Linked DNA regions of Homo sapiens: region 1 is linked to region 2. Evidence: fine-mapped expression QTL. A gene starts in region 2. The other region holds a variant in brackets. All regions are shown on one strand. Distances are between the middles of the regions.

What was found. PIP is the estimated chance that this variant, and not a neighbour inherited with it, causes the effect.
Region 1: its variant is the best candidate, but not a certain one, in a credible set for the expression of ATG101 in lymphoblastoid cells (TwinsUK, PIP 0.54).

The regions. Positions count from the first base shown.
Region 1 is chr12:52,097,581-52,102,965 of GRCh38, forward strand. The region is part of intron 2 of SMIM41 (small integral membrane protein 41); the gene reads left to right. The region is part of intron 2 of SMIM41-AS1 (SMIM41 antisense RNA 1); the gene reads right to left. It also overlaps the pseudogene OR7E47P. Among named protein-coding and RNA genes, the nearest start is that of SMIM41-AS1, 18 kb to the right of the region's middle. The variant AG/A (reference allele first, on the strand shown) is at 2,235.
Region 2 is chr12:52,067,883-52,073,267 of GRCh38, forward strand. ATG101 (autophagy related 101) reads left to right here and starts at 2,096. Exons shown (of 4, transcript NM_021934.5): 1 at 2,096-2,360; 2 at 2,472-2,601. RefSeq lists enhancers at 1,562-1,851, 1,729-2,444.

The DNA of each region.
Region 1 (5,385 bases), 30 kb after region 2:
AACCTTATGAACAAGATCACAGAGGGGTGTACACCTCCTGCGATATTGGGAGTAATATCATTCTCTCCTCCACTGCATACTGGGAACAATATCACAGGGGCGTGTATTCCCCCTTCCATATGGGAGTCATATGATACTTGCCGTCCATATATTAAGAACAATACCAAAGCGGGGATGGACACTTTGACGATATTGGGAGTAACATCATTCTCTCTACCCCTGGATATTAGTAGCAATATCACAGGGGGGATGTACATTTCTTGTGATATAGAGAGTAGTAGTATTTTCTTCCCCGCTGGATATTAAAACCAATACCACAAGGGGCATCAAACCACCTGCCAAATTCGAAGGAATGTTATCCTCTCCCCCGCCCCCGCCCCCGGATATTAGAGACAATAACACAGGGGTAACGTACACCCACTGCTTTATTGGGAGAAGTATCATCCTCTCCCTTCTTGGATATTAGGAGCAATATCACAGTGTGCGTGTACGCCTGTCGCGAAATTCAATGGAATGTCATCCTGTGCCTCCCTGGATATGACGAACAATGTCACGGGGGATGTACAACTTCTGAGATATTGGGAGTGATATCATCCTCTCCCCTCTGGAAGTTAGGGACAATATCACAGGGGTAGTGTACACCCTCTGTGATGTTGGGACTAATATCATCCTCCCGTCCCCTGGATATTAAAAACCATGTCACAAGGGGCGTGTACACACACTTCGATATTGGTATTAATACCATCCTCTCCCTCTTTGGATATTCAGTGCACTATTTCAGGTGGGGTATACACCACCTGCAATATTGGAAGTAATATGATTTTCTCCCCCCTGGATATTAGAAACAATATCACAGGGGGTGTGAACAACCCCTGCGATATTTGGAGTAATATCATCGTCTCCCCTCATGAATATTAAGAACAATATCGTGGGGGGGGGGGGACGTACACCCCGTTTGATATTTGATATCATCCTCTTCCCCCCTGGATATTGGAACAATATCAGGAAGGGATGTACAGACCCTGTGACATTTGCTGTCATCTAATTGTCTCTCCCCTAGATATTAGGAAAAATGTAACCGGGGATGTGAACACCCCTGCGATATTGGGAGAAGTATCATCCTCTCCCCCCTTGTATATTAGGAACAATATCACGGGGGGGGGGGTGTACTGCCTCTGCGATATTGGGAGTAAAATTATCCTCTCTTCCCTTGGATATTAGGAAGGGTATCAGAGGGGGAGGGTGTACATTCCCTGTGATATTCAACGTAATCTTAGCCTCTCCCTCCCAGGGTATTCAGAACAATATTACAGGAGGGGTGTACACCCTTTGCGATATTGAGAGTCATATCATCCTCTTTCGCTCTGGATATTAGGAACAATATCACAGGGTTGTGTACACCCCCTGCGATATCGGGAGTAATATCATCTTCTCTCTCTCTGGATATTAGGAAGAGTATCACAGGCTGTGTACACCCCCTGCAATATTGGGAGTAGTATCCTCTCTCCCTCTGGATATGAGGAAGAGTTTCACAGGGATGTGTGTACCCCCTGCGATATTGGGAGTAATATCATCCTGTCGCCCTCTGGATATTAGGAAGAGTTTCACAGGGGTGTGTACACTCCCTGCAACATGAGTAGTAATATCATCCTGTGCCCCCTGGATGTTAAAAACCAAATCACGGGGATTGTACACCTGCTGCGATATTGGGAGTAATATCTTCCTCTCTCTGCCTGGATATTAGAAGTAATATCACGGGTGGTTTACATCCCCTGCGATATTGGGAGTAATATCATCCTCTCTCCCCCTGGATATTAGGAACAACATCACAGGGGGGTGTCCACCTCCTGGGATATTGGTGTAAAACCCCCTGTGATATTAGGAGCAATATCATCCTCTCGCCCTCTGGATATTAGGAACAGTATCACGGGGTGGGGGGTGTACATCCGTGCGATATTGAAAGTAATATCCTCTCCTCCACGGTTTTTAGAAATGAAATCACAGTGGGTTGTACAGCTGGTGCGATATTGGTAGTGATATCGTTCCCTCCTTCCCTGGATATTAGGAACAACATTACAAGGGGGTTGTATACTACCTGCGATATTTGGAGTAATATGATTCTTTGCCCACCTGGATATTAGGAACAACATCATGGCGTGGGGGTCGTGGAAAACCCCGGCTATTTTGAAAGTATCATCCTCTTTTTCCCTGGATACTATGAACAATATCACAGG[AG/A]GGATGTGCACCTTCTGCGATATTGGGAGTAATATTATCCTCTCCCGCCCTGAATATTTAGAAAAATATCACAGTGGGGTGTACACCCTGGTGATATTGGGAGTAATATCATCCTCTCCACCCAGGAAATTACTAACAAGGTCACGGGGGGTTGTGTACTACCCCTGAGATATTGGGAGTAATGACATCCTCCCCAAACCTGGATGTTAGCAACAAGATAACAGAGGGGGTGTACACACCCTGTGATATTGGAAGTAATATGATCCTCTCCCCCCCCGGATATTGGGAAAAATATCAAGCGCGGGTATACATTTCCTACGCTGTTGGGAGTAATATCATTCTTTTCCTCTCTGGATATCAGGAACAATATCACAGGGGTAGTGTACATTTCCTTCGATATGGGGAGTAATATCATCCTCTCCCCGCTGGGATATTAGGAACAATATCCCAGGGGGGTGTCCACCCTCTGCGATATTGGGAGTAATATCATCCTCTGTTTCCTTGGATATTAGACACAATATCACAAAAAGGTGTACACCCCCTGCAATATTGGGAGTAATATCATACTCTCCTTCCCTGGATATTAGAAAACAATATCATCGGGGTGAACAACCCCTGCGAGAATGGGAGTAATATTTTCTTTCTTTTTTTTTTTTTTGAGGCAGAGTTTCACTCTTGTTGCCCAGGCTGGAGTGCAATGGCACAATCTCGGCTCACTGCAACCTCTGCCTCCCGTATTCAAGCGATTCTCCTGTCTCAGCCTTCTGAGTAGCTGGGATTACAGGCATGCGCTACCGCGCCCAGCTATTTTTTTTTTTTTTTTTTTTTTGTATTTTTAGTAGAGACAGTGTTTCTCCATATTGGTCAGGCTGGTCTTGAACTCCCGACCTCAGGTGATCCACCCACTTCGGCCCCCCAAAGTGCTGGGATTACAGGCGTGAGTGACCGCGCCCAGCCACCACTTAGCATTTTCATTTTACATTTGTTGAAGTTATAGATTGATACATTGATTGCTGCTTTATTACATACACTTGCATATACATAAAATGGGAAGTAGAAAAGAATAAAATGGGCACAGTATCCCTAAAGTTTCGCATTCTGAGACATTTTAAAAATATTTGCTTTTTAGAAATTTGTTTCAATTAAGAAACTATGGTATACACACATAATGAAGTATTATTCAGCCTAAAAAGGAGTAAAATCCTCTCCACTGCAGAAAAAAATGGATGAGATTACAGGTCTGTATATTAAGTGAAATAAGCCAGGCACAGCATGACAAATATTACATGTCCTCACTTATACGTAGGAACAAAAAAGAAAATCTTGGCCAGGTGTGGTGGCTCAGGCCTGTAATCCTAGCACTTTGGGAGGCCGAGTCACACGGATCACTTGAGGCCAGGAGTTCGAGACCCTCCTGGCCAACATAGTGAAACCCCCGTCTCTACTAAAAACACAAAAAATTAGCCGGGTGTGGTGACGTGTGCCTGTAGTCTCAGCTACTCGGAAGGCTGAGGCCCAAGAAGCACTTGAACTCGGGAGGCGGAGGTTGCAGTGAGCCCGGATTGTGCCTGTATACTCCAACCTGGGCAACAGAAAGAGACTCCATCACACACCTACACACAAAAGGAATCTCAGGAAGGTGGAGAGTATAAAGGGGGTTAGCAGACGCTAGGAAGAAAAGGGGTGGGATGGGGAATGAAGAGAAGTGGATAATTGGGTCCCAAAATACAGAAAGATGGAATAAGTGAGTTCTAGTGTTTGATAGTACAGTATGAAAATTTAACTCACAAGAATTTCTTGCATATTTCCAGACGCTTTGGTAAGAAGCTTCCTAACTTTCTCATTATGCTGGTTTTTAAGCTCTTCTCTTTCTGCTCTTGAAATCATGCTGTTTTTTTGTTTTTTTTTTGTTTTGAGATGGAGTTTCGCTCTTGTTGCCCAGGCTGGAGTGTAGTGGTGCAGTCTTGGCTCACCGCAACCTCTGCCTCCTGGGTTCAAGTGATTCTCCTGCCTCCACCTCCCGAGTAGCTGGGATTACAGGCATGCGCCAGCACACCCAGCTAATGTTGTATTTTTAGTAGAGACGGGGGTTTTTCCCTGTCGGTCAGGCTGGTCTTGAACTCCTGACCTCAGGTGATCCGCCCACCTCGGCCTCCCAAAGTGCTGGGATTACAGGCGTGAGCAACTGCGCTCGGCCCATGCTGTATCTTTATCTGTTGTCTCTTGCTGTTTGTTTGTTTTTGAGCCCAGAAATAACTTCTCACCTATATGTTCAAGTGATTTTTAACATGAGTGCTAAGAAAGTTCATTGGTGGAAAAGCAGCCTTTTCAAGAAATGGTGTTGGAGAAACTTGATCTCCACATGCAGAAGAATGAAGGTGGACCCTATGTCACACCAGGTGCAAAAATTAACACAAACTGGATCAAAGACCTCACCCCAAGTGCTAAAAGTATAATATGCCTAAAAGAAAACATTGGCCACACTTTCATGACATCAGATTGGGCAATGCTTTCTGGGATGTGACACCAAAAGCATAGGCAACAAAAGAAAATTAGATTCCTTGGATTACATCTAAATGACAGACACTTTTGTACATCAAAAAACACTGTGAACTGAGTGAAAAGATAACCCGTGGATTAGGAAAAATATTTGCAAATCATATATCTGAAAAGAGGCTGATATCCATCATATATAAAGAACAGCCAGAACTAAACAACAAGAAACCCAAAGCATCCCATTAACAATGGTCAGAAGATTTGAGTAGACATGTCCCTAAAGAAGATATAGCAATGGCCAATAAACATCTAAAGTGATGTTCAAATCACTAATCATAGGGAAGCACAAATCAAACCAATAATGTGATACCACACATTAGGATGGATATGATAAACAAGCATTGGTGAAACGAGAGGGAAGTAGGAATGCTCGAATATGATTGGAGGGAATGTAAAACCATGAAGGAACAGGGAAAATAGTATGGCGTGTACTGGAAAAATTAGAAACAGAATCATCAGATGTTCCCGCAGTTGCACTTGTGGGTTCCTACCAAAAAGAATTAGAAGCCAGGAGTGGAAGAGATATTTGTACACCCATATTCATAGCAGCATTATTCACAACAGCCAAAATGGGGAAGCAACCCAAGGGTTCGT
Region 2 (5,385 bases):
ACCATGCCCGGCCCAATTTCTTATCTATATTGCAGGATTGATTAGTATCAGGTTTAAATTTATATGTACACATATATGGTATTTAAAATCATGACCTTTCCATTCCACCTAATAAATGTTATCTATTATCGTTTTGGGAAATAAAAGCATGTGTTAGAAAAATCAGCTTTTTTTTTTTTTTTGAGACAGGGTTTCTCTCCGTTGCCCAGGCTGGAGTGCCGTGGTGCAGTCTCAGCTCATTGCAACCTCCACCTCCCAGGTTCAAGCAATTCTTCTGCCTCAGCCTCCCAAGTAGCTGGGATTACAGGTGCCTGACACCACACCTGGCTTTTTTTTTTTTTTTGTATTTTTGGTAGAGATGAGGTTTCACCATATTGGCCAGGCTGGTCTCAAACTCCTGACCTCGAGTGATCCATCAGCCTCGACCTCCCAAAGTACCGGGATTACAGGCATGAGCCATCACACCCGACTTTTTTTTTTTTTTCTTTTTGAGACAGGATCTTGTTTTGTCATTCAGCCTGCAATGCAGTGGCGTGATTATAGCTCACTGCAGCTTCAACCTCCTGGGCTCAGGTGATCCTCCACCTCAGCCTCTGAAGTAGCTGGGACTACAGGGGTACACCAACACGCCCAGCTAAATTTTTAATTTTTATTTTAAAGATGGGAGTCTCACTATGTCGACCAGGCTGGTCTTGAACCCCCGGCCCCAGGTGATGCTCTGTCCTAAGCCTTCCAAAATGTTGGGATCACAGGCGTGAGGCACCCCAATGGGCCAGAAAATGAGCATGGTAATCCCCAGCTAACACCTTAAGAATGCCTCCTGGCCGGTCGCGGTGGCTCACGCCTGTAATCCCAGCACTTTGGGAGGCCGAGGCGGGCAGATCACGAGGTCAGGATATCGAGACCATCCTGGCTAACACGGTGAAAACCCGTCTCTACTAAAAAAAATACAAAAAAAATTAGCCGGGCGTGGTGGTGGGCGCCTGTAGTCCCAGCTACTCGGGAGGCTGAGGCAGGAGAATGACGTGAACCCAGGAGGCGGAGCTTGCAGTGAGCCGAGATAGCGCCACTGCACTCCAGCCTGGGCGACAGAGCGAGACGCCGTCTCAAAAAAAAAAAAAAAAAAAAAAAAAAAAAAAATACTGCCTCCTATTGGAGGTGGGTGCATTAACCGAGCTCTCGAAGCCCTGTCTGCTCTGGGCTTACAATCTACATGGAGAACCAAATGCGCTCCAGGAAGTTACACAGCACTAAAAATACACTTGTATTCATATTAGACTTTACAGGTCACAGAAATCTTTCATATGAGTTATCTCCTGTGATCCTCACAACAGCCACCTGTTTATAGAGAGCATCAGAAAGGATGAGTGATGTTGAGGGTCACGCAGAGAAGCAATGGCCGAATTACTAGCCTCCGAAGGACTGTCACCAGATTGGTCACCATGGGGTATCAAGTAGTGCTGCTGCATAAAGGCAACACTGAGAGATGAAGCCCCTTTCTCCAGCATCTGTGTGGGTGGAGGGCCAGGGATCCCGTCTGTTACGCACATTCAACAAACTCAAGTTTTGCCATCCACTGGGCGTCCTGCAGTACAGCGGTGTGGGCTCATCTCCAGGACCTCTCTCTACGGGGTACGCCCCTCATCTTGCGGTGATCAGTGTTCCTTCCAGACCTCTCAGTCCGGACTGAGTTGGGCACCGCGTCAGCGTCTCCCGGCCAGGCTCGCCGCCGATGACTCCGCTCGGCCTAGGGAGGCGGCCGAGAGCCCGTAGGGCTCCTCCTTCCCTCCAGTCTCTATGGCGGAAGTGAGTTGTACGGGCCGAAACACCACAGCGTTCTCGGTGGTGGGCTGAATGGACTCGTCCACATGAGGGGGATCTTCATCACCATCAACTCTTAAAATCCGAGACATAACCACGAAAGGAGCAGCCCCCAGATCAGAGAGCAACGCATGACTATCTGCGTGTGCTTCTGTGACTACGCGGATGTTGTGGGCGGCTACATGCGTGCGGGGGCCCGGCGAGCTGGGCAGGTGCCCCCTCCGGGGCCGTGGGATCTGGTGAGCTTCCCGGCGCGCGGGGGGCGGTGCGGCTTCCGGTCCCGGCTCAGCCTCCGACCCAGGTGGTCTGGAGCCTGCCGGGAGAGTGGTGGCATCTGAGAGGCTGGTCGTGGACTGTGGTTGGGGGAGGTGGGAGCTGTTTTAACCGTGTGCCCCCTCTCCTGTGCCGGCGTGGGCATCCCCCGGGGCAGTGGAACGCGGGCGCTCCTCCAGCTTCCGAGTCCAGCCAGCCTGGGCGCGGGGCGCCGCCCCCGAGACACCCGAGGAGTCCGTTCCTCCCTGGTTACGTGGACTGTGGAGGTTCGCGCGTAGTGGCGGCGGGGGATACGGGACCCGGGCGGGAATTCCTTCCTGCGTCCGTCCCGAGTCTCTTGATATGGAGCCAAGTAAGTTTTCTGGTTTTGCTTTTAGCTGGTCTCTTGTGGCTCAGCGCCGTGCGGAGGTTGAAGCGTACCTGCGGAGGTCGCACCAGGGCGTGAGGAGGAGGAGGAAGGGCATGAGCCGAGCTTGAGGAATCCGTGCTCCAAACTCTACACTCAAGGTGGGAATGGGCGCACCCTGTGCTCCAGCCAGGCTTGAGAAGGCGGCTGTTAGCCTCTGCCACTCGGGGGGACAAGAGGGACGAGACTTTCCAGACCCTACTCTGGTGGGCCCTGCTTGCTCACTGCTCACTGTGTGGGGCAGGGGACAACAAGGTTTTCACAGACCAAATGTGGCAGCTGTGGGAAGGAGAATGGGGTTGGTCAGGACTGACTTCTTGGAGGAGTGGATCCTAAAATAGCACGTAGAATGAGGGAGGAGCCCAGGCTTGGGGCACAAGTGAGATGTGTGGCTTGTGTGAACGATTGCGGGGGACACAAGAGGGAGAAGTCGTGGAAGAAAGGGAGCCGGACCAGAGCCGGGAGTCTCTAGATGGGAAGAAAACTGCTGGATGGAGTAAAACTGGAGGGCAAAACGAGCAAGAGAGCCCTTCTCCTTCTTGATCCAAGCATGTAGGAGAAACTAATCCAGCAACCCCTGGAAGAACCTGGAATTCCTGGGTTGGGCTCAATTGAGCAGTTGTTTTGTAGAAGGTACTAGGAATTACCATTATAGTGATGAATGGAATATAGTCTCTGCCCTATAAGCAGAATATAGGAATTGTTTGCCTAGTGGTAGAGACAAAAACAAAACGTGATGGTGCTTGATAGTACAGGTAGACGCGAGCTGATCGCCAGCTGAGAGGCAGAGCTGGCCTGATCTCTGTGCGGTCCACAGACCGTTGCCCTGTATCCTGTGCTGAGCAACAGTTTAAAAGGGGCAGACACAAACTGAAATATACTTTTTATATTCACCATCTGTCAACCAGATGAGTGAAATATACTTAGAGGAGAGCTGCTAGGATTCCATGCAGATAAGATGTGATGTGGAACAGACATGTTTTTGAGGACTGGGGACCTTCAGCCTGTAGAAGGGGTGAGGGGGTGGTGGAATAGCTGCCCCTAAATAAAAACTCACTTGTGGAAAAGAGGTGAGACTTATTTTGTGTGGCTTTGGGTACCAAAACTAAAACTAAAAGTGGTTTGAAGCACTAAGAGACAGATTCTTCAGCAGAAAGAATAACTGGACTGGGTGCGGTAATCCCAGCACTTTGGGAGGCCGAGGCGGGTGGATCTCTTGAGCTCAGGAGTTCGAGACCAGCCTGGGTAACATGGCAAAACCCTTTCTTTACCAAAAATACAAAAAATTAGCCAGGTGTGGTGGTGTTCGCCTGTGTTCCCAGCTGCTTGGGAGGCTGGGATGGGAGCCTGGGAGGCAGAAGTTGCAGTGAGTAGAGATTGTGTCACTGTATTGCAGCCTGGGTGATGGAGTGAGACCCCATTTCATAAATAAAATAAATAAATAAATCAGAATAACTGAATAGAACTTCCTGAACATTGACTGGTTGTTGTGAGAGCTAGTGAATTCCCAGTCAGGGGAGGTTTGCAAGCTGAATACTCTGAGTTATAAGGAACTTGAAGCTCCCTCTCCCTCTGGGCATGTATTTAGTTATTATGTTCTAGTTCTCAAGTCTCTTGTTCTCTCCTTCCTACTCTCTCTACCACTGCTGTGTTATAGCCTTGCATCATCTCTTGGCAGTAACAATGTAATAATGAATTATAGCAGCTAATACTTAGTGGATATTTACCATTTGTCAGGTACTTATTTAAGTGTTTTATACATGCTAGCTCATTCAGCCCTCAACCCTTTCAAGGTAGCCATTATTATCTCTTTTGTATATGTGGCAGATAGGTGTTAAGCAGCTTGCCCAAGATCATGAGCATGGAGCAAGTGGCAGAGCTGGGGTTCCATTCCAGGTTGTCTGGCTTTCAAGTCATCGTTTTCAACCACTATTCTACTGTATTTTACATGTGTTACCTTAATTCTCACTACTATCCCCATTTACAGATAAGAAGTTCAGAGAGGTTGAGTGATTCGCTTAAGGTCATAGAGCAAGATGTAGATGAGGTGGGATTCAAACCCAGGACTGTAGGACATGAAAAACCGCCCACACCTGATTATGCTGCTTCTGTAACTACATCTACTGTAGTGGTCTTTAACTGACTTCCGTGCCCAGCCTTTGTGCCTTAAATCCACAAGTTTTTACCCTGGAGTCTGTGGATGTGGGTGTCTCTAGAAATAGGTGAGATTTGGTATATGTGTGTGTGTGAGAGTCATGTTTTTAAAGCCCAGTCTTCATGGCTTCATTCACTTCTCAGAGCAGTTTGTGACCCCAATACGGTTTAGAGCCATTCTTTGCCCTTTAGCCAAAGGTACTTGTCTTTTTTTTTTTAAATTTATTTTATTACTTTGTATTTTTGTTTTTTTTGAGACAGGGTCTCGCTTTGTCACTCAGGCTGGAGCACAGTGGCATGATCTCAGCTCACTGCAGCCTCAGCCTCCCACATTTAAGTTATCCTCCTGCCTCAGCCCCTCAAGTAACTGGGACTACAGGCGCCTGCCACCAGGCCCAGCTAATTTTTTATATTTTTGGTAGAGATGGGGTTTTATCATGTTTCCCAGGCTGGTCTTGAACTTTTGAGCTCAAGTGATTTGCCTCGGCCTCCCAAGTTGCTGGGATTAATGTGAGCCACCACACCCGGCCTAGAGGTACTTTTTTGATGCACAGATTTGATCTTGGCTTAGTGATGCATTGACTCTTCGCTGCTTTTAGGACAGAGTCCAAATGCCTTAACCTGTTCATTCAAGGTCCCAGGAAATCAGACTCCAATCTTTCTGTACTTCTTACTCCCACCCTGTACTCTCTCCGTGGTGATAATGTTTAGTTGCGTGCTTTTTCTTCATC